4 linked regions of the Homo sapiens genome follow. The protein of the gene in region 3 interacts with the protein of the main gene of each other region in a biochemical or structural test. Each region holds a gene or a part of one and is shown on either strand. Other genes may lie near its edges. The genes, in order: PTOV1, RITA1, RBPJ and NOTCH3.

What was found.
Region 1: the proteins of RBPJ (region 3) and PTOV1 form a complex in vitro, tested with the Homo sapiens proteins (one study listed by BioGRID).
Region 2: the proteins of RBPJ (region 3) and RITA1 form a complex in vitro, tested with the Homo sapiens proteins (one study listed by IntAct).
Region 4: the proteins of RBPJ (region 3) and NOTCH3 form a complex in vitro, tested with the Homo sapiens proteins (one study listed by BioGRID).

The regions. Positions count from the first base shown.
Region 1 is NC_000019.10:49,846,341-49,854,771, reverse strand, and holds the start of PTOV1 (prostate tumor-overexpressed gene 1 protein), read right to left. Parts: upstream 3,614-8,431; 5' UTR 3,444-3,613; coding exon 3,273-3,443; intron 3,205-3,272; exon of another isoform or gene 3,096-3,204; intron 367-3,095; coding exon 229-366; intron 182-228; exon of another isoform or gene 121-181; coding exon 38-120; intron 1-37. UniProt on the Homo sapiens protein: May activate transcription. Required for nuclear translocation of FLOT1. Promotes cell proliferation.
Region 2 is NC_000012.12:113,188,453-113,193,491, forward strand, and holds the end of RITA1 (RBPJ-interacting and tubulin-associated protein 1), read left to right. Parts: intron 1-2,857; coding exon 2,858-3,365; 3' UTR 3,366-3,916; downstream 3,917-5,039. UniProt on the Homo sapiens protein: Tubulin-binding protein that acts as a negative regulator of Notch signaling pathway.
Region 3 is NC_000004.12:26,421,452-26,429,342, reverse strand, and holds part of RBPJ (recombining binding protein suppressor of hairless), read right to left. Parts: intron 5,002-7,891; coding exon 4,864-5,001; intron 4,713-4,863; coding exon 4,600-4,712; intron 624-4,599; coding exon 483-623; intron 1-482. UniProt on the Homo sapiens protein: Transcriptional regulator that plays a central role in Notch signaling, a signaling pathway involved in cell-cell communication that regulates a broad spectrum of cell-fate determinations.
Region 4 is NC_000019.10:15,197,751-15,205,549, forward strand, and holds the start of NOTCH3 (neurogenic locus notch homolog protein 3 precursor), read right to left. Parts: upstream 3,246-7,799; 5' UTR 3,156-3,245; coding exon 3,038-3,155; intron 1-3,037. UniProt on the Homo sapiens protein: Functions as a receptor for membrane-bound ligands Jagged1, Jagged2 and Delta1 to regulate cell-fate determination.

The sequences.
Region 1 (8,431 bases), on a different chromosome or scaffold from region 3:
CCTGCCACCGCCCTGGCTGCCACGCCCCGGCACTCACAGGTTCTCGCCTTGGTTCACGTAGGCTTGGCAGGGCAGGGTCCGCTTCAGCTTTGCAGTGGAGTCAGAGTAGGGTCTGCGCTTCTGTGGGGGCAGGAGGGGCGTCACTGTGCACAGCCTAGATGCCCTGGCCTGTCCCCGCAGGGACAAGACAAGACCCTGGAGGCCAGCCGCAGCCCCACAGAGACTCACCTCCTGCCACTCGAGGACGCCGCTCCAAGCCAGCAGCTTGTTGCTGAGCCGGTGCTCGCTCACGGCCAGACCCCCGAGGGTGAGCCCAGGTGAGGAGGGACCGATGGGACCCAGTGCCCCGAAGACCCGAGCACCTTCCTGCAATGGAGTGGGGGATAGGTGGGAAAACTGAGGCCGGGGCCTGCAAGGACAGGCAGTCCCCACACACCCCAGAGGGGACGTCCCAATATTCAGCCCCAAATCCCCTGCTGGAAGCCCACGGGGCCATGTCCAAACCCTCTGCTCACCCCTCAGGACCCCCACACGCTGGTCCTCATGTCCTTTCCCGCTGCCCACCCTCAGGACCCTTCCTTCCCAGAGCCTGCTGTCACCTTGACACTGGCCCAGCAGAGTCCTGAAGCCTTCAGCCAGCCCCACCTCCAGCCTTTGCCCCAGCTGTGCGCCTGATCGATTCTTGAGACCCAAGTTAGAAGCCAGCTGTAGGGGGCTTTCCCCGTGCCCCAGGCTGGGCCCAGGGCTTCCTTGCAGCCTCCACAGGCACAAGCCGGCTTGCGCTGTGTCTGTCCCACACACCAGCTTGCCCTGTCTTTCCCAGGCTGAAACTCTCCTAAAGCTCCCTGTCATCCCAAAGTTCAATTCCTTCCTCTGGCTCAGGCCAGTGCCCACCTCTCTGGCCTTATAAGTCTGACCCCGGGGGGAGGCAGGAAGGAGATGACAAGAAACACAGAGGGGACTAAACCATCCAGGAGAAAGACAGCGAGGAAAAGGGGGAAACATTTGGAAGACAGCTGGGACACCACCCCCAGAGGGGTCTCACAGACCAAAACATGTAGAACACCAAGAGAAAGTTCTAGCAATAAAGCCAAGCAACGCCACAAATGCTACTCACAGGCACTCTCCCCACTATTTTTATTACTATTTTTTTTTTGAGACAGAGTTTCACTCATTTCCCAGACTGGAGTGCAGTGGTGCGATCTCAGCTCACTGCAACCTCGCTCACTGCAAGCCGCGCCATCATGCCCGGCTAATTTTTTTTTTTTTTTTTTTTTTAGTAGAGATGGGGTTTCACCATGTTGGCCAGACTGGTCTCGAACTCCTGACCTCAAGTGATCCGCCCGCCTCGGCCTCCCAAAGTGCTGGGATTACAGACGAGGGCCACCAAGCCTGACCTCACTTATTGTTTTTTAAAACCAAAAACATCTCAAAGCAAACAAGGGAAAGCTCCGCAAACAGCCTGGCAGCAGGAAACCCACGAGAGTTTCCCCGTAATAGGCGCCTCCAGGCGGGGGAAAACAAATTATAAGGGTGATTTATTTTTATCTTATTACAAACAGGTATTTTCCAAATTTTCTATGAAGCACAAGGAGATCTTTCCTTCCAGAATACTAGCAAACACAAAAAATTTTATTTTGTGAGTGCTTAAAAAGAGAAAAACCTGAACAAACTTGCTCTCCACCCACGCAGGTGATTCTCCACCCACGCAGGTGATTCTTCACCCACGCAGGTGATTCTGACTTTTGGGCAGTCGTCAGAAGATCAGATAGAAAACCTGAGTATCTTGGCGTTAGAATGAGTTGGACAGAGAGTGGATGTTGCCCCGGGGGCTTCAGGCACCATACCGGACATCCAGCATCTGAGATGAGTTAAAACGCACAGCTGGAGGTGACTTTCGAGATGAGGGTACACTTACAACATACAAGTTGTTTATGGCGCTGGGACCTGAGGTATCTAGTCCGCATATACAGTGACACGTATGCATTTACTGCCACAAAGATGGGTAAAAGTCAGGAGAACGCACTTAAGAGCCCAAGCGACATACTTAATGTCTGCTTGTCTAGGAGAGCAGGTTGACTCAGGACTTCAAATATGCTGGGATCTGGAGCCATAGTAAAGAACACATATGCTTGCCTAAAACCCAGGGATACCTTCCACAGCAGGAGCAGCACATCAAGATGGGACGATCATATTTAAAAACGACGGTTAAGGTGCAACCTAAAGTAAATCTCACATCTTGGCAATCGTGTGCAAAACTGCGCGCCTGACATCCCTATTGCACAGGGAAGCCCATCTAGTACTTGCACTGAGGTTTAAAACCTTGGGGTGCATGTCTGAGGACCCGGAAAGCACTTTTGAACAACTAGATGCGAATGCTGCAGGAAGGGGCGAAGGCAGTGGAGTGAAGGGGTACGTTTAAGTTGTGGGAGGTGATCTAAGTCTCGGTATCCATGTTTATGACCCCAGGAAGCCTGTTTAAGGTTTCAGTAGGGCTGCCACAGCTCTGTGCCATCCACACCGCTGAGGCAGTGTATTTAAGAAGCGGACCCGAGCGCGAACCCAGGGGAAATCTCACATCGGGGCAAGCGTGTGCACGGTGCAAAGTCGCGATGTGCGGTTTTACAGCCCCAGGTAAACCTTACGGTTTCTGAAAAGCATGTGCATCTTTTGGGTCCGGAGAAGCGTGTGCAGCCCAAAGTACCTGCGAAGCTGAATGTTTACGTTTAAGGTCTGGGCTCACGGCAGTCCATCAAAGCATCCCACATGTGGGCGCGGGCGCGTATTCTAGGTGCGCACTCCACGGGCACGGAGCGGCCGCCAGGGGAGAACGCCCACGGGTGCGACATCTGGGGGCGCTGGTACAAAGCGCGGGCCCCTCCCTCGCCGCTGTCCCCCAAAACCGCCCCCATTTCCAGGTTTCCTGCCCGGAGAGCGAGCAACTCTCCAATAGGAAAAACAAGCGAGCGTGCCGGCTGCCTGTCTGCCGCCCCCAGCCCGCGTTTAAATCGGGCCGCGGAGTCAGCAGTAATATGAGCCCGCCCCGCCCCCGTCCCCCAACCCCCCACCCCGGCCCGAACGCGCAACAAAGGGGAGAGCGCGGCGCGAACCACCGGGTGCTCCACGGGGGAACCCGGCCCCGGGCGGGACCACCCTTCGGGCCACAGGGGACACCCCGGAGCGGCGGGGGCTGCGGACAAAGGCGTGAGCCCGGGATAGGGGCTGGGGGGGCGGGGCCGTGGAAGGCTCTGGAAAAAGGGCGGGGGGCTCACCATGGGAGGGGCCGAGCGGGCCCGGATCCGCGGAGGCTGCGGGCCTCGGGGGCTGGCAGGCCAGGAGCGCGAGCGGACGGCGCGCACCACGAGGGGCCGCGGAGGGCGGCCGCGACCCCCGAGGGGGCCCCCGGCGCCGGAGCGGTACGGGGCACGGCGCGGACGGACCATGGCGGGCGCGGGCCGAGCGGGCGGGGAGCTGCCGCGGGCCACAAGGGGGGCTGCGGGCTCCACCGACTGAGGGGCGCGGGCGCGGGCGCGCGGCTTCGGGGGAGACGGGCTGAGCCGTACCAAGCTCGGGGGACGCGCCGCCGGAGTGGGGTCGCCGCGGCCGAACCACTGAGGCGAGCGGGGGAGCCCGGCGCGTACCAAGCGCGTCCGAGGGGGCGTGGCCGGAGCGTACCAAGGCGGCGCGGGGGAGCGGGGCCCGGGCGGGAGCGGAGTGTGGGCTCGGCGGTCCTGCGGGCCTCTCCGGCGCGGGGGAGTCCTGGGAAGACGCGCGAGCCACAACTTCAGGGGGCGTGGCGGGAACGGGAGCCCCTACCGAATGGGGTGGCAGAAGAACGAAGGCGACACCAAGCTGGCCCCTTGCGGGGGTCGGGACGGCGGGAGACCTCATCCGGAGCCCTGGGCCCGCAGAGCCAGGAGACCGCGCCAAAATACATCAGGGAAGAGGGGAGGACGGAATAATGGGCCTGGGGACAAAGGAACCCACTGAAAGGGAACCCACTGAGGGTACGGATTGCACCCGAGCCTGAGACAGCTGAAGGTTTGCAGTCGGTGACGTGGCGAGGTGGGCAAGGGACTCCAACTCCCAGCGGGCCCCGCGCGGCCTGGGCGGGGCCAGCTGTCCCTGGAGGCTCCGCCCATTAGCCCCGGCGCCCAGGCTCCGCCCGCCGTCCCTGGCGACTCCAAGCTTCTCGCCACTCACGTCGCTCCCCGGCCTTCCGTGGATTCGCTCATTCGCTCTGCTAAAATGGAATGACTACTTACTAGTAGTTGTATAAGATTTTTCCCTCGATTTTTGTTCCTTAAACGTGGGTAATACCTAACCCTAGAGTGGTTATGGGGATCGAGCCCGAGGGGCTGTGCTTGACTGCTTGGCGCAGTCACTACTCAAATGTTAGCTTTTCTTTAAAAACAACAACAAAAATCTGTTATGAGTACCCTGTCCAGTTCTGTGCTCGGCGACGACCGAATCAGACCACGTCCCTCACAGGCCCCACGGTCCACTGGGGAGAGACATAATCACAGGCTGTGCTAAGTGTTAACTAGCGCACATCCACAGGGCGATGGGATATGACCATAGCGAGGTAAAGTTAGCAAGCAAGGGAAGTCAAGAAAACGACCTGTGAGCAACCTGCCATTCCAGATGGCTGGAAAAGTGTGCAAAGAGGACAGAACAGCAAAGACAAATCCTGAAAGTAGAAGGAATAAAAGGGAGCCAGTGTGGGCGGAGTCGAGTGAAGGTAGAGAGGAGAAATAGACACAGCTGTAGGAGGTTAGAGACGGAGTCCCTACTTCTGTTTCGGATGTTGACTAAACAATGTAGATAGATATTGATGTCATAGCCTGGAGAGAGAAATTCGGGAGTCATCAGTGTTTGAATGGAGACTGGATGAGCTCACAAAGAGACTGGGACACTCATCCCTTTAGCAGTCACGACAATGAGAAGCAACCAGCAAAGGACACGGAGGAGTGGCCAGTGAAATGGCAGAAGAACCCGTAGGCCTGTCCATGTTTTCCTGCCCAGGGGCTCCCGAGGGCTGACTGGAGCCCAGCCTTAAACCCCAAATCCAACCTGCATTGTGGCCAAACGGAGTCAGTGCTCCCTGAACACAAACTGCAAGTTAGTTATCAACAGGTACCTCCAATGCCCTGTCAATCACCCATGTGAGGACAACCTGGCAGCAGGAAGGAGAAAAAACAGGAGCTGCTTTAATCTCCCGGAATCCTCACTTCTCCCCATTCTTGTTGGTCCAAACCATCAAGATCTCTTGCCTGGGTGACGTCTCCTAACTCTTGCTGCCTTCTCTGTCACTACAATAATCAAAACCATCCAATGGCTTCCCAGTGCCTTTAGAATTAAATCCAAACTTGGTACTGTGGCCCCTGCTGCCGCCCCCCAAAAAATCTCTCTCCCATCCTTCCTGTTCTCTACCTGTTAATGCCTTCCCATCCCTCAGAACCCATCAGGACACACGTGAGTTTGAATGCCCTGAATTGTATAAGCATGGAGAGCGGTATACCAGGGTGTACTCCAGAGTGAGCAAAATGGGAACTCATGTCAGAAAGTGAAATGAAAATGTAGGCTGAAATTCTATCAGTAATACTGCAACAAAACTCTCTGAAACCATCTCACTTAACTCGGTCCACCAACTTGAAAGACACTTTCCTTTTCATCTGTGAAGCCCACTGCTGGGGCTAGCAGGCTACTATTATGACTAAGCAATTCCACTTCCATCTCTCAAGCTGTTTACTTCCTGAAAGGTAGCTGTTTGATCCAAACCTGTTTATGCCAGAAGTTCTTGTTTAATTTACTATCAAACTAATGAAATTAATGCAAGACAGTTGTTTATACACAAACCAGATTGCTTGCTTTGGAAAGACTAAAAGGGAGTTGTTAAAAGAAAAACATGCCAGGCGTGGTGGCTCACACCTGTAATTCTGCACTTTGGGAAGCCGAGGTGGGCAGATCACTTCAGGTCAGGAGTTCAAGACCAGTCTGGCCAACATGGTGAAACACCGTCTCCACTAAAAATACAAAAGTTAACCGGGCATGGTGGTGTATGCCTGTAGTCCCAGCTACTCTGGAGGCTAAGGCAGGAGAATCGATTGAACCCAGGGGGTGGAGGTTGCAGTGAGCTGAGATCTCACCACTGCAACTCCAGCCTGAGCAACAAAGCAAGACTCCATCTCTTAAAAAAAAAAAAATGCTGCCAAGTTAGGTACAAGTAAAGCAACTGTAAATTATTTAATGAAAAAGCTTATAAAAACCTAGGAAGACTCAGCCCCCAGTTTGTTTCATAAATGTCTTTAGGTTCTCAAGCCACTTAAAAAAATGACTCATTGTGGTTTGTGGGTGGAGCTTATACAAGAATGTGATGTTCTACTGGGCGCAGTGGCTCATGCCCGTAATCCCAACACATTGGGAGGCTGAGGTGGGAAGATTGCTTGAGCCCAGGAGCTCGAGACCAGCCTGGGCAACACAGTGAGACTCCCACCTCTACAAAAACAACAATAATTTTCTAGGCATGGTGGCATGCACCTGTGGTCCCAGCTACTCAGGAGGCTGAGGTGGGAGGATCTCTTGAGTCCAGGAGATTGAGGCTGTAGTGAGCCGTGTTCACACCACTGCACTTCAGTCCAAGTGACAAAGTGAGACCCTGTCTCAAAAACAAGAATGTAATGTCGTGTGCTAACTAGGAGACCAATACTGAAAGAAAGGGTCTTGGTCCTACGTACAAGAGATGTCTGTTTAAATGTTCTTGGTTAAAATAAGATGTTTAAAGTGTTAAGATGGCCGTTAGTGCTATTTGCCATATATTTCTAGCTCCACACTTGGCCAGCATTTGACCCCATTTAGCTTGAGTGCGGCCATGTGATTAATTTTGGCCAGTAAGGTGTGAGGCCATGTGATTACATCTGGCCAATGAGATATGAGCAGAAGTGACACATGTGAATTCAGCAAGAGCACATAATTGCTAATGGAAGACCAGACCCCTCTGCCTTTACTATGTCCATTGGCAACCTTCATGATCTGTCCGCACGGGCTCCAAGCTGACACTCAATACAGCACGAGTGACAAAATCCACCTTGGCTGTTTCAAGCCACTGCAATCTGGGGGTAATCTGGCCTTTCCTGATATACACAATTTTTTTTTCCCAAATAATCCCAGTTTAACCAACATTTGTTAAACCAATCAACTACCAAGTCTGAGTTTCCTAGAAGAACAAACTGGCAGTACATATAGGTTGGATGACATAGGCTAGGACACAATGACAACATGGACAAAGTGTTTTATACTGGCCGGGCACGGTGGCTCATGCCTGTAATCCTAGCACTTTGGGAGGCTGAGGCAGGTGGATCACCTGTTGTCAGGAGACCAGCCTGGCCAACCTGGTGAAACCCCATCTCTACTAAAAATACAAAAATTAGCCAGACGTGGTGGCAGGCGCCTGCAATCCCAGCTACTCAGGAATACAAATACAGTCTCCTGATTGATCCTCCAATTCAAGCAGGAGAATTGCTTAAACCCGGGGAGGCGGAGGTTGCAGTGAGCTGCACTCCAATCTGGGCGACAGAGCGACATTCTGTCTCAAAAAATGCTAATAGGCTGGGTGCGGTGGCTCACACCTGTAATCCCAGCACTTTGGGAGGCTGAGGCGGGCAAATCATGAGGTCAGGAGTTCAAGACCAGCCTGGCCAACATGGTGAAACCATGTCTGTACTAAAAATACAAAAAATTAGCTGGGCATGGTAGTGGGTGCCTGTAATCCCAGCTACTTGGGAAGCTGAGGCAGGAGAATCACTTGAACCCAGGAGGCGGAGGTTGCATTGAGCTGAGATTGTGCCACTGCACTCCAGCCCAGGTAACAGTGTGAGACTCCGTCTCAAAACAAACAAATAAAAAAGATAATAAAATGCTTTATGCTAAGAAATGGGAGTAAGATCATCTCTGGCTTGGATTTTTCTTTTCTTTCTTTGCAATTACAAAATAGTTTATGGCTGATTTTTTTTTTAAAGGTCTGCCTGATACATGCTTTGCAAACTCTAGGTATTTCAACTTTGTCATCATCGTGTGTGTCCAGACGCAGAGGCTCACACCTGTAGTTTCAACACTTTGGGAGGCTGAGGTTGGAGCATTGCTTGAGCCCAGGAGTTTGAGACCAGCCTGGGCAACATAGCAAGACCCCATCTCTACAACTATAAAACTAGCCAGGCGTGGTGTTACATGTCTCTAGTCCCAGCTACTCTGGAGGCTGAGGTAGGAGAATTACTTGAGGCCAGGAGTTCGAGACCAGCCTGAGCAACAGAGTAAAACTCTGTCTCTACAAAAAATACAAAAATTAGCTGGGCATGGTGGTGCGTGTCTGTAGTCCCAGCTACTCGACAAGTGGAGGTGGGAAGACTGCTTGACCCCTCTAGGCAGAGGCTGC
Region 2 (5,039 bases), on a different chromosome or scaffold from region 3:
TGCCTTGGCCTCCCGAAGTGCTGGGATTACAGGCATGAGCCACCGCGCCTGGCCACAACACAAATTTATTTTGTCACAGTCTGGAGGCTGGAAGCCCAAGATCAAGGTGTTGGCAGGTTTGGTTTCTCCTGAGGCCTCTCTCCTTGGCTTGCAGTTGGCCACGTTCTCACAGTGTCATCATAGGGCCTTTTCTCATTTTTTTTTAATCCTTCAATTACATGCAAGGGCCTTTTCTGTATACACACACACCCCTGATGTCTCTTCCTCTCATAAGGACACCAGTTCTATTGGATTAGGATCCCCTACCCTTATAATGTTATTTAGCCTTAGTTACCTTTTTTTTTTTTTTTTTTTTTTTTTTTTTTTTTTTTTTTTTGAGATGGAGTCTGGCTCTGTCGCCCAGGCTGGAGTGCAGTGGCACCATCTCGGATCACTGCAGCCTCCACCTCCGGGTTCAAGGAATTCTCCTGCCTCAGCCTCCCGAGTAGCTGGCATTACAGGTGCACGCCACCATGCCTGGCTAATTTTTGTATTTTTAGTAGAGACGGGGTTTCACTGTGTTGGCCAGGCTGGTCTCAAACTCCTGAGCTCAAGTCGTTCTCCCGCCTCTGCTTTCCAAAGTGCTGGAATTACAGATGTGAGCCACCATGTCTGGCCAGCCTTAATTACCTTTAATTAATCTAAATAATTAAGGCCAAGTGTAGAGACATTTGGGGTTAGGGCTTCAACATATGAATTTGGGTGGGCACAATTCAGTCCATAAGAACTGGCCAGCTAAAGTTAGGGTTCATTCTGAACCACAGGGACATATTTCAGATGAGAGAAATGAAATGAGAATGGGAATGATACCTATTATAAAAACAAGAATCAGTTATTGCCAGTTCTGTAGACAAGGCAGGGTCAGGTGGAGATTAGCAACACTGATACCTACAACATGGCTGAAAACACTGAGGTAAAGATAGGCTGCATTAGGAAGTATGGTGTCCATGAAAAGGGAGGTGACAACTCCTTGCTCACCTGGAGGGTGGAATTTTCTTCTGGATGCCAACAGGTAGAGGGTGTCAAGTGAGGGGTTGCATAAGAGGTAGAGAAGTTATTGAGCAAAAACCTTGGCACCAGACATATACAGGCATTAGCCAATGTGGTTTGAGCAGCTAAACCAAGTGGCAAAAGCTTGCCCTTTCAAAGACTTGCAGTTTGGGGATAGAAGCACTTTCAGTCCTGGCCAAAAAAACTATGGGCGTGGAATCTTGCAGGTATGCCGTGAATATCTGTTGAATAAAAAAAAAAAAAAAAAAAAAGGCCAGACAGGCTGACTCAGGCCTGTAGTCCCAGCACTTTGGGAGGCTGAGGTGGGAGGATCGCTTGAGCTCCAGAGTTTGAGACCAGCCTGGGCAACATAGTGAGATCCCTGTCTCTACAAAAAATAAAAATATTAGCAGGGCATAGTGGTGCATACCTGTAGTCCCAGCTACTCTGGAGGCTGAAGTGGGAGGATTACTTGAGCTCAGGAGTTCGCAGCTGCAGCGAGCGTCACTGCACTCCAGCCTGGGTGACAGAGTGAGACCCTGTCTCTTAAAAAAAAAAAAAAAAAAGGCCGGGCGCAGTGACTCTTGCCTGTAATCCCAGCACTTTGGGAGGCCGAGGTGGGTAGATCATGAGGTCAGGAATTGAAGACCAGCCTGGCCAACATGGTGAAACCCCCCCCGTCTCTACTAAAAATACAAAAATTAGCTGGGCATGGTAGCACATGCCTGTAATCCCGCCTACTCAGGAGGCTGAGGCAGGAGAATCGCTTGAACCCAGGAGGCGGAGGTTGCAGTGAGCTGAGATTGCACCACTGCACTCCAGCCTGGGTGACAGAGCGAGACTCTGTCTCAGAAAAAAAAAGAAAAAGAAAGAAAGAAAAGAAAATGGGCACGGTGGCTTACTCCTGCAATCCTAACACTTTGAGAGGTTAAGGCAGGGGGCTGCTTGAGTTCAGGAACTCAAGACCAGCCTGAGCAACATAAATCTGATCTCTACTAAAAATCAAAAACAAAAAAATTAGCTGGGCTTGGTGGCACTGTGCCTGTAGTCCCAGCTATTAGGGAGGCTGAGGTGAGAGGATTGCTTGGGCCCAGGAATTTGAGGCTGCTGTGATCTGTGACTGTGCCACTACACTCCACTTGAACAACAGAGTGAGATCGTGTCTCACAAAGAAAAGAAAAAGTGGAGGCTATAAAGACTAAGGTTATACTAATTGTGACTCTCAATTGCAAGTGACAGAAAACTTATTCAAACTGGCTTCCCCAGGAGAAGGCATGTGGGGCTCCTGTAACAGGGGCTCAAACTGTGGCTGGAACTGTCTGTCTCCACCTTAGTGCTGCTTTTCCCTGCATGCCCTTCAATCTTCAGTAGGAAGGAGATAGCCACAAGCTGCTTTGGGCTGACATCCTATCAGCTTAGCAAGAAGTAAAGTCAGGTGGCAGAAAGACATCTCTTTCCTAGTGGTTTCTGCAAGGTCCTAAGGCAGATTCTGATTGGACAGGCTTGGGTCATCTGGCCATTCGTGAACCAATCCATGTGGCCAGGAGGATGGAATATGCAAATTGTCCAGGCCTGGGGCACATGTCTGGGAATGGGGTCAGGATGCAGGGGCAGTGGATGTTTCGCAGGGAAAATCAGCAGAGACCGGGGGCAGTGGTGCTTAAGAGGCTGTGGCCTCGCTGTAGGTTTCAGACTGGGAGACAAGGACTCCTGGGATCTGCAGGCAACCCTCCTCTGCTGCTGCCATCCCAGGGTGGGTGGGAGAGCTGTTAAAGTTTTGAGGGGTTGTTCATCCCCCAGCTCATGGCGTTTATCTTCCATTTGCCAGACCCATCAGCCACACCCCGTCTTACTGTGATGAGTCGCTGTTTGGCTCCCGATCTGAAGGCGCCAGCTTCGGGGCCCCGCGGATGGCGAAGGGGGATGCCGCAAAGCTCCGTGCTCTCTTGTGGACGCCACCACCTACCCCCAGGGGTAGCCACTCGCCCCGCCCCAGGGAGGCACCACTGCGAGCCATTCACCCAGCTGGTCCCTCCAAGACAGAGCCGGGGCCAGCGGCAGACTCCCAGAAGTTATCTATGGGTGGGTTACACTCTTCACGCCCCCTGAAGCGGGGACTTTCCCATTCCCTCACCCACCTGAATGTCCCCAGCACTGGTCATCCAGCCACCAGTGCCCCCCACACAAATGGGCCTCAGGATCTCAGGCCTTCCACGTCAGGGGTGACCTTCCGGAGCCCCCTGGTGACTTCCAGGGCTCGCTCAGTTAGCATTTCAGTGCCATCTACCCCACGACGAGGTGGGGCCACCCAGAAACCAAAGCCCCCTTGGAAATGATACTCTTTCATCAGGGTTGCCTATGGGGCCACGGCGACAGGTATGGCCCCTTGCCAGGGTAGGAGGACATTCATCACCCAGGGAACCCCAGGTATTAAAGAAGCCCCTGTGGGGGCAGACAGACATAGCAGGGGTGGGCAGTGCCTCCCTTTATCCTGACAATCTCTAGTCGATTCTTGCCTTTTTCTCCCGATTGCGGATTTGGGGGCCACCTCTAAGATGCCTCTCTCCAGCCCTGTCTCAACCATACTCCAAATTAGTGCCAACCCAGGGGCCTGGCACCTCCCACATCATCCATTGTCTTGCTGCCAAGTGCGAATAAACGGCGTGATTGCCAACCTGGAGGGTCCCCTCTTATCCCTTCAAGCCAAGCTTCCTGCTCAGGATTAGTTTCCAGCTAAGTCTGCAAGCCCTAGAGGAGTTTTTCCAGGCTGTCTGTGAAGCCTGGGGAACACAACGGCAACTGGGAGATTTGTGAGTGAACACTGTTTCATCTTAATATGCTTCTGAATTTATTTTCATGTACTAAATAGATCAGCTCATCAAAGCCATGAATGTCACTTTTTTTCCCCCTCAGGGTAAAGGCCATTGTTAGGCCTGAGTTGATTTAAATAACAAAGTTAAATACAACAGATAGTACAAGGATGTGGCAGGCAACATGACAGCGGTGAGTGGGTAACTGAAGTTTGGGAATCTGGGGCTTCGGGAAGCGCTGGACTCTTCCTCCCGTCGGCTTCTGGCTAATGCCACTAACTTGTGGTTGGCCGGCTCTTCCTTAGCTCAGAGTACAGACAATAGTATTTTTTTAGTTTTGTTTTTAAGTTTGTTTGTGTGTGTGTGTGTGTGTGTGTGTGTGTGTTAAGGTGGGAAATAAAACACAATGGCTAGGACTTTGCCAAGTGGAGGGTCCAAGAAAGCCAGACAGTGACATGTGTGTCTGCAGAGCACTTAGGATGCAGCCCAGGACTTAGGAAAAGCAACAAAGCCTTTGCGCAGATGGAATTGCACCCAGATTGGGCAGTGTGGGCTGGGCTCTGGGCCTCTCCTTGCCCCCGTCTTCCTGTAAGGCACCTCCAGGAGGCACCAGGATTTTAGGGAGTCCAGTTGGAAGCCACATCATCTGGTTGGTACGTCTGCCTTGGGGCAGGGAAGAGTGGACACTGCTGGGGAGGGAGACCTGCAGTGCCCAGGACCAGTGACACACAGAAACACCTGTGGGGTCAGGCAGGCCAGCTGTGCTCTCATGCAAACATGCTTTGTTTTTTGTTTGTTTGTTTGTATGTTTGTTTGTTTTTGGTGTTTCTTTTTTTTGTTTTGTTTTGTTTTTTAAGACACGGGGCCTCGTTTCCTTGCCCACCCTGGAGTGCAGTGGTGCGATCATAGCTCACTGCTGACTTGACCTCCCGGCTCAAGCCATCCTCCCCCTCAGCCTCCTGAGTGGCGGGGACTACATGCATGCACCACCATGCCTGGCTAACTTCTTTTAAAAATTTTTTTGGACTGGGCGCGGTGGTTCATGCCTGTAATCCCAGCACTTTAGGAGGCCGAGGCGGGCGGATCACGAGGTCAGGAGATCGAGACCATCCTGGCTAACACAGTGAAACCCTGTCTCTACTAAAAATACAAAAAATTAGCCGGGCGCGGTGGCAGGCGCCTGTAGTCCCAGCTACATGG
Region 3 (7,891 bases):
ATCTGCCCATGTCATAACCTCATGAAAGCCTTCTGAGTAAATGTAAAACATTAGCTTTCAAAGCATGTCATCATTACTATCTTCGGAAACCACGACATAAATCTGATGAGATTTTGAGCCTTCACCCAGAAAAATGCTTTGTCTATACAATGTTTGCACACAATTTCAGAGGATTCAATGAGCACTGAAAATCTATTTTTGGATATCCTGAGGGGCTCTTTGTTCTTCAATTAAGAACCCTGGAACTAGATGTTAACTGTTTTCTCTGAGAACATTTTCATAATTTTGAGTTCTTCCTTGAGGAAGGATTGCTTGCATGTCTGAGGATTGTGTGTTAAGGATGCTCATACCTGAGATAAATATCTGTGTATAGCTTCATGTATTTGTATATAATTAACAGCAAATGAAAATTTCATATTTTTGCAAGCTGCTAACCTCACAGTTTGTACATTTTAGATTTCACCAGTAATTTAAAAACATACCTGAAATTGAATTATTCTTTCTTGAGAAAGGCACAAATACATTCTTTCTGTATCCTTAAGGTAAAATGCACATTTATGGAGTTGTGACACAGGATCATCTGCATCCAATAATGCGGTCTGCTTATCAACTTTCCTAATTATCTATATTTAACAATTAAGAAATAAAAGGTCATCCACACATGGAAAGGATTTTCCTTGTGTAAAACATCAAAAGTACATAGAAGCTATATACTGCATAATAATACATCACAGTTATTTGTCCTATGCCTACATATATAAAAACATTCACAAACAAAAAGACTAGGAATAAAAAACACTTTTAGATTGCAAGCATGTCAGAATGTAGAAACTGTTACCCTCTTCCCTGAACATCTAAAAAAAAAAAATCAGGCAGGCAGGCACTTGTTTTCTAGATCAGTGTTTTTCAAACATTAATGTGCACATAAATGAGCTGGGGTTCTTGTGAAAAACACAGGTTCTGATCTAGCAGGACTCTTGTGGGGCCTGATATTCTGCATTTCTAACAAAATCCCAGTTGATGTTAATGCTGCTGGCCTACAGACCATATTTTGAACAGCAAGTTCTAATGATATTTTCCAATAATATGCATAAAATGACAAATACTCCAACATCAAAGGGAAAAATCTCTAGAAGGCTACTGTCAGTGCAAACGTCTTATATCTATTATCCAAAACTTACGTATTTAAAAACATAACAAAATCAAACTCATTTTACAGATTACAAAATGGGCTTAGAAAGGTCAGACAAATTGCTCAAAATTACCAGTTTAGTAGCTGAAGGACCAGAATATGTCCTGATCCCAGGGCTGGCTGCCTGTCCAACTGATCTCTAAAGCTTATAACGCAACTAGTCTACAAAACACATGAATATCTGAAAGATAATACTATCAAACCCTATATGACACTTGACACCTAGAAGGTAATGGCTAAGTAGATGATCATGATGAAGAGCAAAATTTGACACAGAACTTTTACTCTGTTTCCTTTTCTATTGATCACTTCCAACAACATACAAACATAACTATCTCTCATCTCAAAATCAAAAGTAAAGAAAACACTGACTACATGCTCCTGTCCCTCCCTCTCACTACCTGTTTTTCTGCAAACGCCTCTTCCTCACTGTCCAATCTCCTGCAATCTCTCCAACCTTTTATCTCAAAGACGCCACTACAACTGCTTTTCAAAGCCACCAAGGATTTCCAGACAGATGCATCTCACGGCACTTTTCTGTCCTCATTTTACTTCATTTTCTCAGAAGCTCTCAACACATTTTGCTTTCAGGACCACAACTGCTCCAACTGACCTTTAAAATGCCCAGAGCTGAGTTCTCAGCCCTCTTTTCCTCTCTTTATAATCTATACTGTTTAAAAATTTAAAGGTTGACAACTCCCAAATTTATTATCTCCAGACTTCTCTCCTGCATTCAACTTGTATGTACACTTAACTACCTATTCAACATTTCCACTTACGATGTCTAACAGGCACCTCAAGCTTAGCATATCGAAAACAGATTTTTGGATTTCCTCCTAAACTTGATCCTTCCCCAACTCATCTAGGTCAATAAATGGCACTAGCATTCACTCAATCCAAAAACCTTAAGAGTCACCCTTGATGCCTTGCTTTCTCTCACACCCAACCATCCAATCTGCCAGCAAATTCTGTCAGGTCCACTTTCCAACAAATCAGTCACCCCTCACCACCTTAATACTATGATCCTGGGTCTAAGATAGCATCAACTCTTGCCTCAATTATGACAACAATCCAAGCACCTGTCTCTCTGCTTCCACGGCCGCATTGCTATGCTCTCTTCTCCACACAGCAGCCACACATATACTTCTAAACAAAAATAGGCCATCGTGCCCCGTTTAAAATCCTCCAGTGGCCTTCTAACATGCAGAGATAATATGAAGTCCTTACCCTAGATACAGAGAGGGATCCTACAAGGTCTTGCTTAGTGCTAACCTTACAGATTCAGTTCCTGCCACTTGACCTCTCCTCCCTCCGCTCCAGCTCCACTGGTTTCTTTACTAGTCATCATACATCCCCTGCCTTCAGTTCTGTACTTGTTCTGTTTGCCTGAAATGCTCCTCACTCAATTACCGGTTCTTTGACTTCATTCTGGGCTCTCTTCAAATACTGCGACTTCAAAAAGACTTCCCTGACCTCTCTAAGCGCTCCTCCAATTCTCTATCCCTTTATTATCTTGTTTTGTTTTTTCATCACTACATAAATCCTTTACATGGGTATTTGGCTTATCACTCTATCAAAATGTAAACTCAATGACGAGAGGCACTCGACTTTGCATGTCAGAATTCCTGTCATGAAACCCCTGGAAAGATTTATGTATCAGCGTCTTAATAATGGTACTGCAACTTTTTCTAATAAGTTAATTTTTCATTGCAACATTTTTATATAAAGCCATACAGTTTTGAGTGTAAAAACCTCAATTAATGACTTTCAAGCAAGGCAGGCTACTGGTACTTTACAAACAACTGTAAATGAAAACATTGTTTTAAATTTGGGTCTGTCTTCTAAGTGGTTTGTATTATAAACTATTGGTGATCAGAATCATCCTCCTAAGTTGTGCTTCTGCAGTACAAGCATTTAACACCAAAGCAAATGAACATCATCCTTGGAACAGAGGAAATGAATGAGAAGAGAAAAAAAATGAATAAATGCTGATTCAGATTTTTTGCTTGCTTCTGTCTCCTGCTCTGTTTTTCATGCCCTTCATTCCCTAACGTTACCCTTTTTATTATAATTTGTCTCAGCTGCAAAGCTTTACAGATTACTATTACTATACTTCATGTCTTCTAGCTTATTGCATTGACATGGGAAATAAAATCACCTTGTACAATCATGACAGAGGGTAAAAAAAAAAAACAGTAACAAAGAAATGAATCACTGGCTTAGAAAACTGTAGATCAAACCAGCCTCTGCTGAAATGACCCCAGAAAATATAAGCCAGTGGAATATTGCACCAAAAAGATAAATAGGAGGCATGTTTAGGAACATTAATACTAAATGTTCTTCTACTCACCCAACCTCTTCAGTCTGACCTTGAATCAAACTTACTCATAAATCCCCTTCATCTTGAATATAAGTAAATTATATTGTTTGAGAAAAGGAGAGGGAAAATTGGGAGGGTGGTGGCACTATAGAGGACTTTTGTTTTCATTTTACTAACAAAAGTAGTTTTTACAATTTCAAGATCTCCTTTTCTGTGGTTGTTGAGATAGGATCTCATTCTGTTGCCCAGGCTAAAGTCCAGTGGTACGATCACCGCTCATTGCAGCCTTGACCTCCCGAGCTCAAGTGATCCTCCCACTTAAGCTTGAGACTACAGGTGTGCACCACCATGCCTGGCTAATTTTTTTTTTGGGGGGGCGGGGTCAGTGGTAAAGACGGTCTGACCATGTTGCCAGGACTAGTCTCGAACTCCTGAGCTCAAGTGATGCCAGGGCTAGTCACTTCTCCTTCTCCTGCCTTCACCTGTTGAAGTGCTGGGATTGCAGGTGTGAGTCACCATGCGTGGCCGAGTTTCAATGTCTTCTATTGAACAAAAGCCCTAAATCCTATGCCCTGCTCCCAGTTAGAAATACCAATTTTATTTCAGTTTTAATAAATCTATCTTCTTGTGAGAGAGTAAGCTAACAAAAATTACGCTTATATTTCAAAAGAAATAAGAATGTCTTCTGTTTGCAAACTTGGTCCTACATTGGGATATGGCAGGTACCACAAAAAAATGAATACGGTTTATCCGCATTAGTAAAGAAAAGAAATGTAATTTATAGTGCCCTCTACTGAACATCTTCAGATAAACAGCCAAAAAGGAAATTGCCACCAAAATATATTGGAAATCATTTAAGAAAAAATCATTAAGAATGTACTTGTAAAAACTGGCTATTACCTTAAAGCATTTCTGAAATAAGGTAGAGCATAACTGTCAATTATAAACAGCACTGATTACTAACATACCTTTTAAAATTAAAAAGCATAAAACTGAGGTGTGTTTTTCCATTTGAATGTTGTGATTTTCCTGTTTAAGAAATTAATTTTTACTTCACATTATCACTAAAGCAAAAGTAGAGCCATACCAATCTTGGGAGTGCCATGCCAGTAACTGAGCACACAAGTTTGACTGTTTGTCCATAATGGATGTAGCCATCTCGGACTGTGAATTCTTCTCCTTCTGATTCATCATCATCCACTGCAGTAGGTGGAAAAATAAATCAAATTGTCATCTTTTTAAATTTATTTTATGATTAGGCAAATGACAAAACTTAATATATCCATGTATCTCATCAAAAGATTTTAACAATTTCACACTAAAAACATTAAATGCACACTTTTATACTCACAGAGATGAATAAAAAAGGCTCCCCACTGCTGTGAACTGGCATGAAAATTACCTCCTTCTACATGCAAGTATCTGGTACTAACTGTCTGGGATCGTAGTCGATTAAACAGAGCCACCTTTGTTCCTGAGGCAATGCATACTGCAAAGAAAAAACAGCTCTTATTTATGTGATTGGAGCAGAAGGTGGGGAGGGAGCAAAAGAAGGAAATTCTGCTTGGCAGTGTATAATTATTCTTTCTTATCATTTAACAGTTTGACAAATATTTTCACTTTCCAAGACAGTACAGATGATATCAAAAAGTCAAGGTAACTGTTATTAATAATGTCAAGCTAATGATATCAAATGTCCATAAAAATAATTTTAAAGTGAAAGCTACACAGTATGTTTAATGTGGTGCTGATTATTAGAGAAAAACTTACTTTTAAAATAATGTTAGACAGTAGAAATTTAAATGATGACCTATTGAAAGGATGTGTATCTAAACACACTGATAAGAAAATATTTTCCTGGAATATCACTGAATGGAAAAGCAGACTATAAAATACTCTGTATGCTGTGGTTCCATTAGGCAAATGTATATATTTTTAATATGTGTTTGCATCCAATTCCACAGAATACATGCATAGAAAAGGGACCAGAAGGATGTTTGTCAGAGTTGATGGTAAATGCCTCTGCATACTGTGATTTCAGAAAATTCTGCTTTCTTCTAAATAAAGTATTGTATGAAATTTCTTGAAAATAAATCCATGTAAGCAGAAAAACATTCTGAAAGTGAAATATGTTCTCTGCCATCAAGAAACTAATATTCAGTACAAACACAAAGTTAAAGCAGTTACATAAAACTGTGTAATCTGAAATGCAAATAGCCTGAATACAAGACATAATATACCTCCTAGTGCAAGAGAGCACACCACCACCTTTGAAGCAGGTCTTGCTTTTCAGAAAGAAAACAAGAACCAAAGGACAACAAACTTAAATCTGATCACCATTCTACACTAAAGATTCTCTCCTTGACCATACTTTTAAGCAGGCTGCTCTGAGCAATCAACTAGTATTTGTCCTTGAGCCCCGTCATCAGTCTGTTTAGCTCAGTTATATATAGTAAGAATCCTCCTAAACTATCTCCCACTCTGGATCTATGATCACCTTGGCCTGCCTTTAGCAGGAATCCTAAGTCAGGTCAGAAAGAAACCTTCTACCTTTGATGTCTCCTTTTAGAAAGTTTCCATCCATTGACCCTCTCACTCTGCTTCATCCCCAAGTGTCTTTGTTGTATTCTGAAATGGAACTTGGTTCTATTTTCCCCTATTGCAATAGTACTGAATGAAATCTGTCTTTCCAACTAGGCCCACGCTCTATTTCTTTTTGACTCTACCAATTTACAGAAAATACATTAAACTATACCAAATAAATGAAATCAGCAAAATCTAGTACGTGGAAATCTCTAGTGACTAAATGTTTCAACTTACTTAAATAAATTGCAAGAGTTGAGGGGGTGTCCATAGATTATACTCAAGGACATATCACAATATAAACTGTACTAAGTGGTAGATCTGAATTTTGATTCAAGCAATCTGATTTTTAAAATATTTTAGACCATTTTAAATTTGAACACTGATTGGATATGCATCAAACTAAAATAAGGGCAGAAGAAAGTGGGGCTGGAGTACAGGTATAGATGAAGATAAGATTGGTTGAATGTTAAGATCACTGTTGACGTTAGAGAATGAACATAAGAGGTTTCACTGTATGGTGCAACTCTGTCTACTTGAGAGTGTTTGAAATTTTTCCGTAATAAAAACTAAGTGATATTAGTGGACTGAGTGGACTAAAATATAACCAATACAAAACAACAACAATAACAACAACCACAACAAAAACCATGATCTCATAATAAAACAAAATGAAAAGAAAGCAAACAAAACAAAAACCCTAAAACCCCACTGGTCACTTTCAAGGAATGTTATTATTCTGCAAATGAGTAAACAAGCACCTAATCCTGCCTTTTCATTACATATTACAATTGAAGCAAATAGCTGATATGGCAAAGTCCCTCTTTGTAGAAAAAACTCCAGCTAACGAATGCAGAAGTTAGAATTTAAAAAATTAGAATATCACCATTTTGCAGCATTTAATGAAATGGATTTAAACATCATCAATGACTATTAAAACCATTAGGTTAAAGTTTGCTGAGGAACTTTATGGGTGGAATAGACTTACAACAGCTGAACTACTATAATCAATCTCAACATGACCAAAAAAAAAAAAGGGGATAATCAGATATTATGACTTCCAATCCAATGGAAATAAATGTATATCTTACCAATCAGTTCTGAAAGTCTTTATGTCTAACCACCAGTTCATGGAAAGTAAGAGAGACAGAGAAACATATAATCAGCCAAACCCAGAATATGGAATTCCACAACAGGAAAAATGATCCAGTTTCTTCAACAAATAAATGACATAGAAGGAAAACAAAGGTGAGAGAGGGTGAGAAGAAACTATTACAGACTAAAATGTGTGGACCTTATCTGAATCCATGTTTGAACAAACCACTGTAAAACAAAACAAAGCAAAAAAACTATAAAAAGACATTCTGGGTCAATCTGATAAATCTGTACATGAAATAGGATATTAGATGACACTTAAGAGCTGCTGTCAACTGTTACGTATAATGATGTTTCAAAAAAAAGGGCATGTATTAGTCACTATTGCAGAAATTTTGGTTGAAAGGATAGGATGAGATTTACATTAAAATACTCCAGCAATTAGAAGACGAAGAGGTGTTGGTGGTGATGGAGATAATGAAACAGAATTGATAAAACCTGTTGAGGCTGGGTGGCTAATTTCTCCCTTTTATATAAATTTGAAAGTCTCAGCCAGGCATGGTGGCTCACGCCTGCAATCCCAACACTTTGGGAGGTCGAGGTGGGTGGATCACCTGAGGTCAGGAGTTCAAGACCAGCCTGGCCAAATGGCGAAACCTCATCTCTACTAAAAAATACAAAATCAGCCGGGCGTGATGGTG
Region 4 (7,799 bases), on a different chromosome or scaffold from region 3:
CCCAGCCCCAGCTGTTGAGGCTGCAGCTGTCCCTGCCAGCTCGAGCCCTGGGAACCACAAAGCAGGGGAAGGCAGGAGGAGGGGCTGTCTTATGCCAGATGTGGGGGCTCGGGAAGCTGCCAGAGCTAAGATGTGCAGAATGGGGTGTGCTGAGACAGGAAGTAAGGGTGCTGAGTGTTACAGGGAGGTCTGGGGCTTCATGCCCAGGTTCAGGGGTAATAGAAGGGGAAGGGGCAGGGGATCCTAGGGCCACGGGTCTTCCTTTCCCTGATGGGCATCTACTCCAGCCAGGCAGGCCTGCGTGGTGCTCTTGGGAGAGGGACCAAGGCATGTACCCACGAGTGAGCACAGCATCTCCAGAAGCAGCCAGCGCTGGGCGTTGCTGGAATAGGGTGTGTGTTGAAGGGAGGGGCAACTGGCACAAGGCATGTGCTGCCCTGTCCAACATCGCCATCCCTAAGGGCTGTGTCCCTCTAGGGTGTGGCATAGTCTAACTGTCCTGCCAGAAGGGTCCAGGGTGTGGCTGGGTCTGAGCTAGTGGAGAACTGTGTGCATGCGATCAGGTGTGGGGACACAGTGCGTGTGTCCATGCATGCTCTTGTCAGAGAGAGGGTGATGGAGAGAGGAAGGAAGATCGAGAAAAACACAAAGACGTGAGAATGAACTAGAAGCAGATAGACCAGGAGAAGACAGAGAAGGACAGAAAGAAATAGAAAGCGGCCAGGCATGGTGGCTCACGCCTCTAATCCCAACACTTTGGGAGGCCGAGGCTGGTGGATCACCTGAGGTCAGGAGTTCGAGACCAGCCTGGCCAACACAGTGAAACCCAGTCTGTTCTAAAAATATAAAACTTAGCTGGGCATGGTAGCAGGTGCCTGTAATCCTAGCTACTCAGGAGGCTGAGGCAGGAGAATCGCTTGAACCCAGGAGCCAGAGGTTCCAGTGAGCCGAGATCACGCCATTGCACTCCACCCTGGGCAACAAGAGCCAAACTCCATCTCCAAAAAAAAATTAGCTGGGTGTGGTGGCGCACGCCTGTAGTCCCAGCTACTCGGGAGGCTGAGGCAGGAGAATCGCTTGAACCTGGGAAGCGGAGGTTGCAGTGACCCGAGATTGCGCCACTGCATGCCAGCCTGGCAACAGAGTGAGACTGTCTCAAAAAAAAAAAAGAGAGAGAGAAGGACAGAAAGAAATAGAAAACAAGAGGGTGAGTTACAGAATCTGTCGAGCTGAACCTGAGCATGGGCCTACATAGTATATGCCCCTTCCTCACAGGACAAGCCGACTGGACACCATCACCCACACCAGGACCTGTGGGTGTTCGTGAACTCACACTGTGGGTCCCATAACATGGGCTATGGGCCACCCTGAGCTGTAGGCAATGTGAGCCACATGTGTGTGCGTGCACGGGCTTGTGTGTCTGTATGTGGATTTGGGCATGCATCTATTGTGTCTCAGTTGCAGCTACATGTGAGTCTATCTGTACATGCATGTCAGCGTGGGTGTGCCCGTGTGTGTATGAGCTGCACACCCATACGGGAATGCACAGATGTGTGTGCTGTCTGTATGCAGGTTGTGTCTGTTGTGCGTCTGTGTATGTGAACCGTGTAAATGGGTGTACAGCTGTGTGTTGGTGTGACCTGTGTGTGCACCGCTGTGTCTGTGTATGGGTTGGCTGTGTCTGTCCATCTGCATGTGTGAGCTGGGTGTAAGCATGTCCTTGAGTCTTCATCTATGTGCTGTCTGAGTGTGTGCAGGCAGCGTGTGTGCCACACCTGTGTGATCATATTTGTGTGTGTATGTATGTCAATGTGTGAGCTGTGTGCGTGCAGCTGGGTGTGTCTTTCCTGAGCCAGGTGTGCAAGTCTGCGAGTGTGCTGTGTGTGTGCAGGTTTGCATCTCTGTTACGTGACCTAGAGCTATGTGTGCCAGCGAGTGTGTCACAGGCCATGTGTGTGCGCCGCTGGTCCGGCGGAGGCGGCGGCTCCTGCCTGGTCCTGCCCCGTCCGGGCCCCGGGGCTGGGCTGGGGAGGCCGTTCACTCCCGAAACCCCCACCCCGCCCAGCGCCAAGCCCCACACTGGCGTCTGGGACCCCTGGCCAGGGGCCTTGGCCCGCGCCCCTCCCCCGCCCACCAGGCCTCCCGTAGCGGTGAGGGGGGTGCCCCCGCAGCCCCCTCCCCGGCCCAGCCGCGGGTCCCGCTTTGTCTGGCAAAGAAAGCGCGAGGCCGGCCGGAGGGAGGGGGTGTCTAGACGGCGCGGCCATTGTCCCGAGCGGGGGAGGGGAGGGAGGAGAGGAGGAGGGGCGGGGGCCCCTGGCCGGCTGGGGAGGGGCTCTGGCCGCGGGGAGGGGGCGCTGGAGCCGAAGGGGAGCACGTGGGCCCTCGCCCCTTCCCCTCCCCGCGCAGGGGCGGGGTCCCAGGGCCTCCGGGTCCCCGCGGCCAGAGGAGAGAGGCGGGCTGCGGGCGGGGGAGGGGGCGCGCGCGCCGCCGAGGCTCCGGCTCGGAATCCGGCTCCGGGTCTTGCTGCGCGCCGGCCTGGGAAGTTTTCTCCGAGTTCAGAGCTCCCAGAACTTCGCGCCCCCTCCCCACCCCCCGCCTGGCCCAGCCCGCCCGGGGTGTCGGGGGCGGGGTGGGGGGGCTTTTGTGCGAGAGGTCCCCGGCCTAGAAGTACCTGGGCCCCCAATCATAACCTACCCAGGACTCCAGGCGTGAGTTGGATGGGGACGAGTCCCGAACTCTGTACGCACCCCCCCACCTCGAGTCCCTGATCCCCGCACCTCGAGCTCCCAGTCTCGGACTCCTGGGTCCCTTCATCTTCAGCTCTAATCGCTCAAGGGTCCCTGTTCCTTGGGCCTCTGGGGTCCTCCCCATTCTGAATCTCTGGGTCCTCCAGGACTGGCATGAAGCCCGGGGCTCCTGCGCCCCTTCCCCGACCCTGGTTCCTGCCTCCCATGAACCCCCGCCAGCCCCGGCCTTGGGGGTTCTTGCACTCCCCCTCTGCCGCCCTCGTCCCATCCGCCAGGTCCCGGCCCCTCACCTGCAGCCCCCGGCCCCGCTAGCAGCAGCAGCAGGGGCAGCGCCCGCACGGGTGGCGGTGGCGGTGGCGGCGACATCGGGCGACGGCGGCGGCGGCGGCCACGGGCCCCCGGCCCCATGGCGGCCGGCCGCGACCCTCCCCTCCTCCCTCCTTCCCTGGGCTCCGGGCGCGTCCCGGGCCAGCCTCCGCGCCGCCAACTTCGCCGAAGTGAGGCGGCCGGGCCGCCCCGCCCCCAGCCCTCGAAGGCTCGCCCCGCCCCGGGGCCGGCCCAGCGCGCCCCCGCCCCCCGCCCGGCCTCCCGGGGTCCCTGCCCACCCTCCACCCGCACAGCCTGGGACGCGCGGACCCTCGGAAACCCAGGCCGAGCATGCAGTGAGACGCGGGCAGAACCCGGAGTGGCGGGCACACCCAACCTCGTGAACGCCCACGCACCCCATCCCCATCCCCCAGTACACACCCAGAGCCGGACACCTCTGGAGCCGGGACAAAAAACACAGCCTCCCAGAAACTCTGGAAACTGAGGCCAGTCACGTCCTGAGAGGCTCATGGACCCACAGCCACGGACGCACAAATGCAAGCCCATGCACCAAGCTTCCCCAGGACTCTGATCTAAAACATTCACAAACCTAAAAGTCGGACCGGGCGCGGTGGCTCCGGCCTGTAATCCCAGCACTTTGAGAGGCAGAGGTGGATGGATCACTTGAGGTCAAGAGTTGGAGACCAGCCTGGCCAACATGGTGAAACCCGGACTCTACTGAAAATACAAAAATTAGCTGAGCGTGGTGGCGCACGCCTGTAGTCCCAGCTATTCGAGAGGCTGAAGCAGGAAAATCGCTTCAACCCAGGAGGCTGAGGTTGCACTTAGCCGAAATCGTACCACTGCGCTCCAGCCTGGGCAACAGAGTAAGACCCTGTCTCAAACAAAACAAACAAACAAAAAACCGCTAAAACTCACTCAGCCAGGCCAGGAGCCTAGGACTACATTTGCAGCCTCAGACCTCAGACACGTACTAGGAGTCACATGCATGTGTGTGTGTTCACACATGCACACACAAACTCTTCTTGCTCTCAGCCCTCCCAGAAAGCAACCCACTTCCTCTGTGACTCTCAAAGGGTCACCCCAGCCCCCTAGTCCCACCCCCATACCCCACACAGCTTTGGGCCTCAGCCTATCTGGCTCAATTTGATTAATTCTCTTTTCTTTTTTTTTTTTTTTTTGAGACAGCGTGTCGCTCTGTCACCCAGGCTGGAGTGCAGTGTCCCTATCTTGGCTCACTGCAAGCTCTACCTCCCAGGTTCAAGCGATTCTCCTTCCTCAGCCCCCACCCCCACAATCTGCCAAGTAGCTGGGATTAGAGGTGTGCGCCACCATACGTGGCTAATTTTTTCTGGGTTTTTGTTTACTTGTTTGTTTGTTTTTGAGACGGAGTCTCGCTCTGTTGCCCAGGCTGAAGTGCAGTGGCATGATCTCCGCTCACTGCAAGTTCCGCCTCCTGGGTTCACACCATTCTCCTGCCTCAGCCGTCCGAGTAGCTGGGACTACAGGCAACTGGCACCATGCTCTGCTAATTTTTTTTTTGTATTTTTAGTAGAGACGGGGTTTCACCGTGTCAGCCAGGATGGTCTCGATCTCCTGACCTCGTGATCTGCCTGCCTCAGCCTCCCAAAGTGTTGGGATTACAGGCGTGAGCCACCGCGCCCAGCTTCTATTTTTTTAGTAGAGACTGGGTTTTGCCATGTTGGCCAGGCTGGTCTCGAACTCCTGACTTCAAGTGATCCGCCCGCCTCAGCCTCCCAAAGTGCTGGGATTACAGGCGTGAGCCACCACGCCCAGCCTTGATCAATTGCCTTTTCCCAAATCAGTCATGCTGCACAGGCTTCCTGCAGCTCCCTCTGTTCCTGTGGAAAGAATGGGGACCCTGAGAGGCCTGGAGCCCAGCCCTGGAGGAACTTCCAGTCTGGGGAAGAAAAAGCTAGACGCACACACACCCAGTGTGGAGGGCTCAGGGCTGGGCCAGAGAAAGGCATGGAATCTGGGAAGGGCCTGGGGTACACGGGTGGTGGGTGAGGACTTTGCCTGGGAGGGTTATTTATTTGTTCATTCATGTATTCAACAAGTATGGCTAAGGCTCCAGCCCTGTATCACACTCTGTTCTATGGACTGGGGGTGCACCCTGGAGGGCGTCCAAGAGGACGTCCAGTGGGGCTTGGCCCTGAAAGTTGAGCTGGAGGGAAGTCATCCCAGCAGAGGGACTGGCCCATGCCAACAGGAAGGGACAGAGTTGGAAGGGAACGTGTACAGGCCAGAGGTTAAGAGGAGAAAGGAGCCATGCTTACTCCTTGGTATCTGGCTTGGTGATAAGGATGCTGGAAGAAGGAATGGGTTGGGTGGAGGAGAGATGCTGGGTTTGAGGGGGTCACCTACAAGGCAGGTATGGCTGAGCATGGGAGAACCATTCTGGTAGGAGATAGTCACATGGGTATCCCAGAAATCTTCAGACAATTTTTTTTTTTAGACAAAGTCCCTCTGTCACCCAGACTGGAGTGCAGTGGCGCGCGACCTCGGCTCACTGCAACCTCTGCCTCCCGGGTTCAACTGATTCTCCTGCCTCAGCCTCCCAAGTAGCTGGGATTACAGGCACACACCACCATGCCTGGCTTTGTATTTTTAGTAGAGACAGGGTTTCACTATGTAGGCTAGGCTAGTCTCAAACTCTTGAACTCAGGTGATCTACCCTCCTCTGCCTCCCAAAGTGCTGGGATTACAGGCATGAGCCACCACGCCGGGCCAATTTTTTTTTTTTTTTTTTTTTTTTTTGAGATGGAGTTTTGCTCTTGTTGCCCCGGCTGGAGTATAATGGCGCAATCTCGGCTCACCACAACCTCTGCCTCCTGGGTTCAAGTGATTCTCCTGCCTCAGCTTCCCGAGTAACTGGGATTACAGGCATGTGCCACCATGTGTGGCTAATTTTGTGTTTTTAGTAGAGACAGAGTTTCTCCATGTTGGTCAGGCTGGTCTCCAACTCCCGACCTCAGGTGATCCACCTGCCTCAGCCTCCCAAAGTGCTGGGATTACAGGCATGAGCCACCACTTCCGGACTCTTTTTTTCTTAAGACCAAGTCTCGGTCTGTGGCCCAGGCTGGAGTGCAGTGGTGCCATCTCGGCTCACTACAACCTCCATTCCTGAGTTCAAGCGATTCTCCTGCCTCAGTTCCCCCCGCCACCCCAAGTAGGTGGAACTACAGGCCCACACCACCATGCCCGGCTAATTTTTGTGTCTTTGGTAGAGACAGGGTTTCACCATGTTGTCCAGGCTGGTCTCGAACTCCTGACCTCAAGTGATCTACCCACCTCAGCCTCCCAAAGTGCTGGAATTACAGGCGTGAGCCGCCATGCCTGGCCACAGTTTTTTTAACTTTTTATTTGAAAATAATTTAAGCCGGGCGCGGTGGCTCATGCCTGTAATCCCAGCTCTCAGGGAGGCAAGAGGCGGGAGGATAGCTTGAGCCCAGAAGTTCAAGACCTGCCTGGGCAATATAGTGAGACCCCATTCTCCACAAAAAGGAAAAAAAAAAAAAGACGAAAATAATTTAAAACACACAAAGTTGCATGCCGGGCGTGGTGGCTCATGTCTGTAATCCCAGCACTTTGGGAGGCTGAGGCAGGAGGATTGTTTGAGGCCAGGAGTTCAAAATCAGTCTGGGCAACATAGCAAGACCTCCATCTCTATAAAAAATTAAAATAAAATTAAGAGGGTGTAGTGGTGAGCGCCTGTAGTCCCAGCTACTTGGGAGGCTGAAGTGGGAGGATCACTTGAGCCTGGATGTCACTGCACTTCAGCCTGGGCAACAGAGCAAGAACCAACTTCAAAACAAAAACAAAAAAAACTGAGAGTTACAGAATAGCGTGAACAACTTGTATAAGCCCTTTGTCCAGATTCACCAACCACCCACATTTTGCCACATTTGACATATATGTGTACATATACGTTATACACATATGCATATATGCATTTTTTGGCTAAATGATTTGAGAGTAAGTTGTAGATATGATGTTCCTTTGCCTTCAAATACTTTGCTGTGTGTTTCCTGAGAACAAGGGTATCCTCTTTCATAAACATACTACAGTTTTTGCCCCAGTCTGTATTCAAAGTTTGCTAGTTGCCCAAATAATATCCTTTATTGGGCCAGGTACAGTGGCTCACACCTGTAATCCCAACACTTTGAGAGGCCAAGGAGGGAGGATTGGTTGAGGCCAAGAGTTCAAGGCCAGCCTGGGCAACATAGTAAGACTCCTGACTCTACAAAACTAGAAAAAATTAGCAGCATATAGTGGCGCGTACCTGTAGTCCCAGCTACTCAGGAGGCTGAGGTGAGAGCGTTGCTTGAGCCCAGGAGGTCGAGGCTGCCGTGAGCTGTGATCATCCTGCTCCACTCCAGTCTGGATAACAGAGCAAGACCCTGTGGGGAAAAAACAAAAAAATTAGTGGCCGGGCGCGGTGGTTCACACCTGTAATTCCAGCACTTTGGGAGGCTGAGGCCGGCTGATCACCTGAGGTCAGGAGTTCAAGACCAGCCTGGCCAACATGGTGAAACCCCTTTTCTACTAAAAATACAAAAATTAACTGGGCATGGTGACAAGTGCCTGTAATCCCAGCTACTCGGGAGGCTGAGGCACGAGAATCGCTTGAACCCAGGAGGCGGAGTTTGCAGTGAGCCGAGATCGCGACACTGCACTCCAGACTGGGCAAAAGAGCATGAT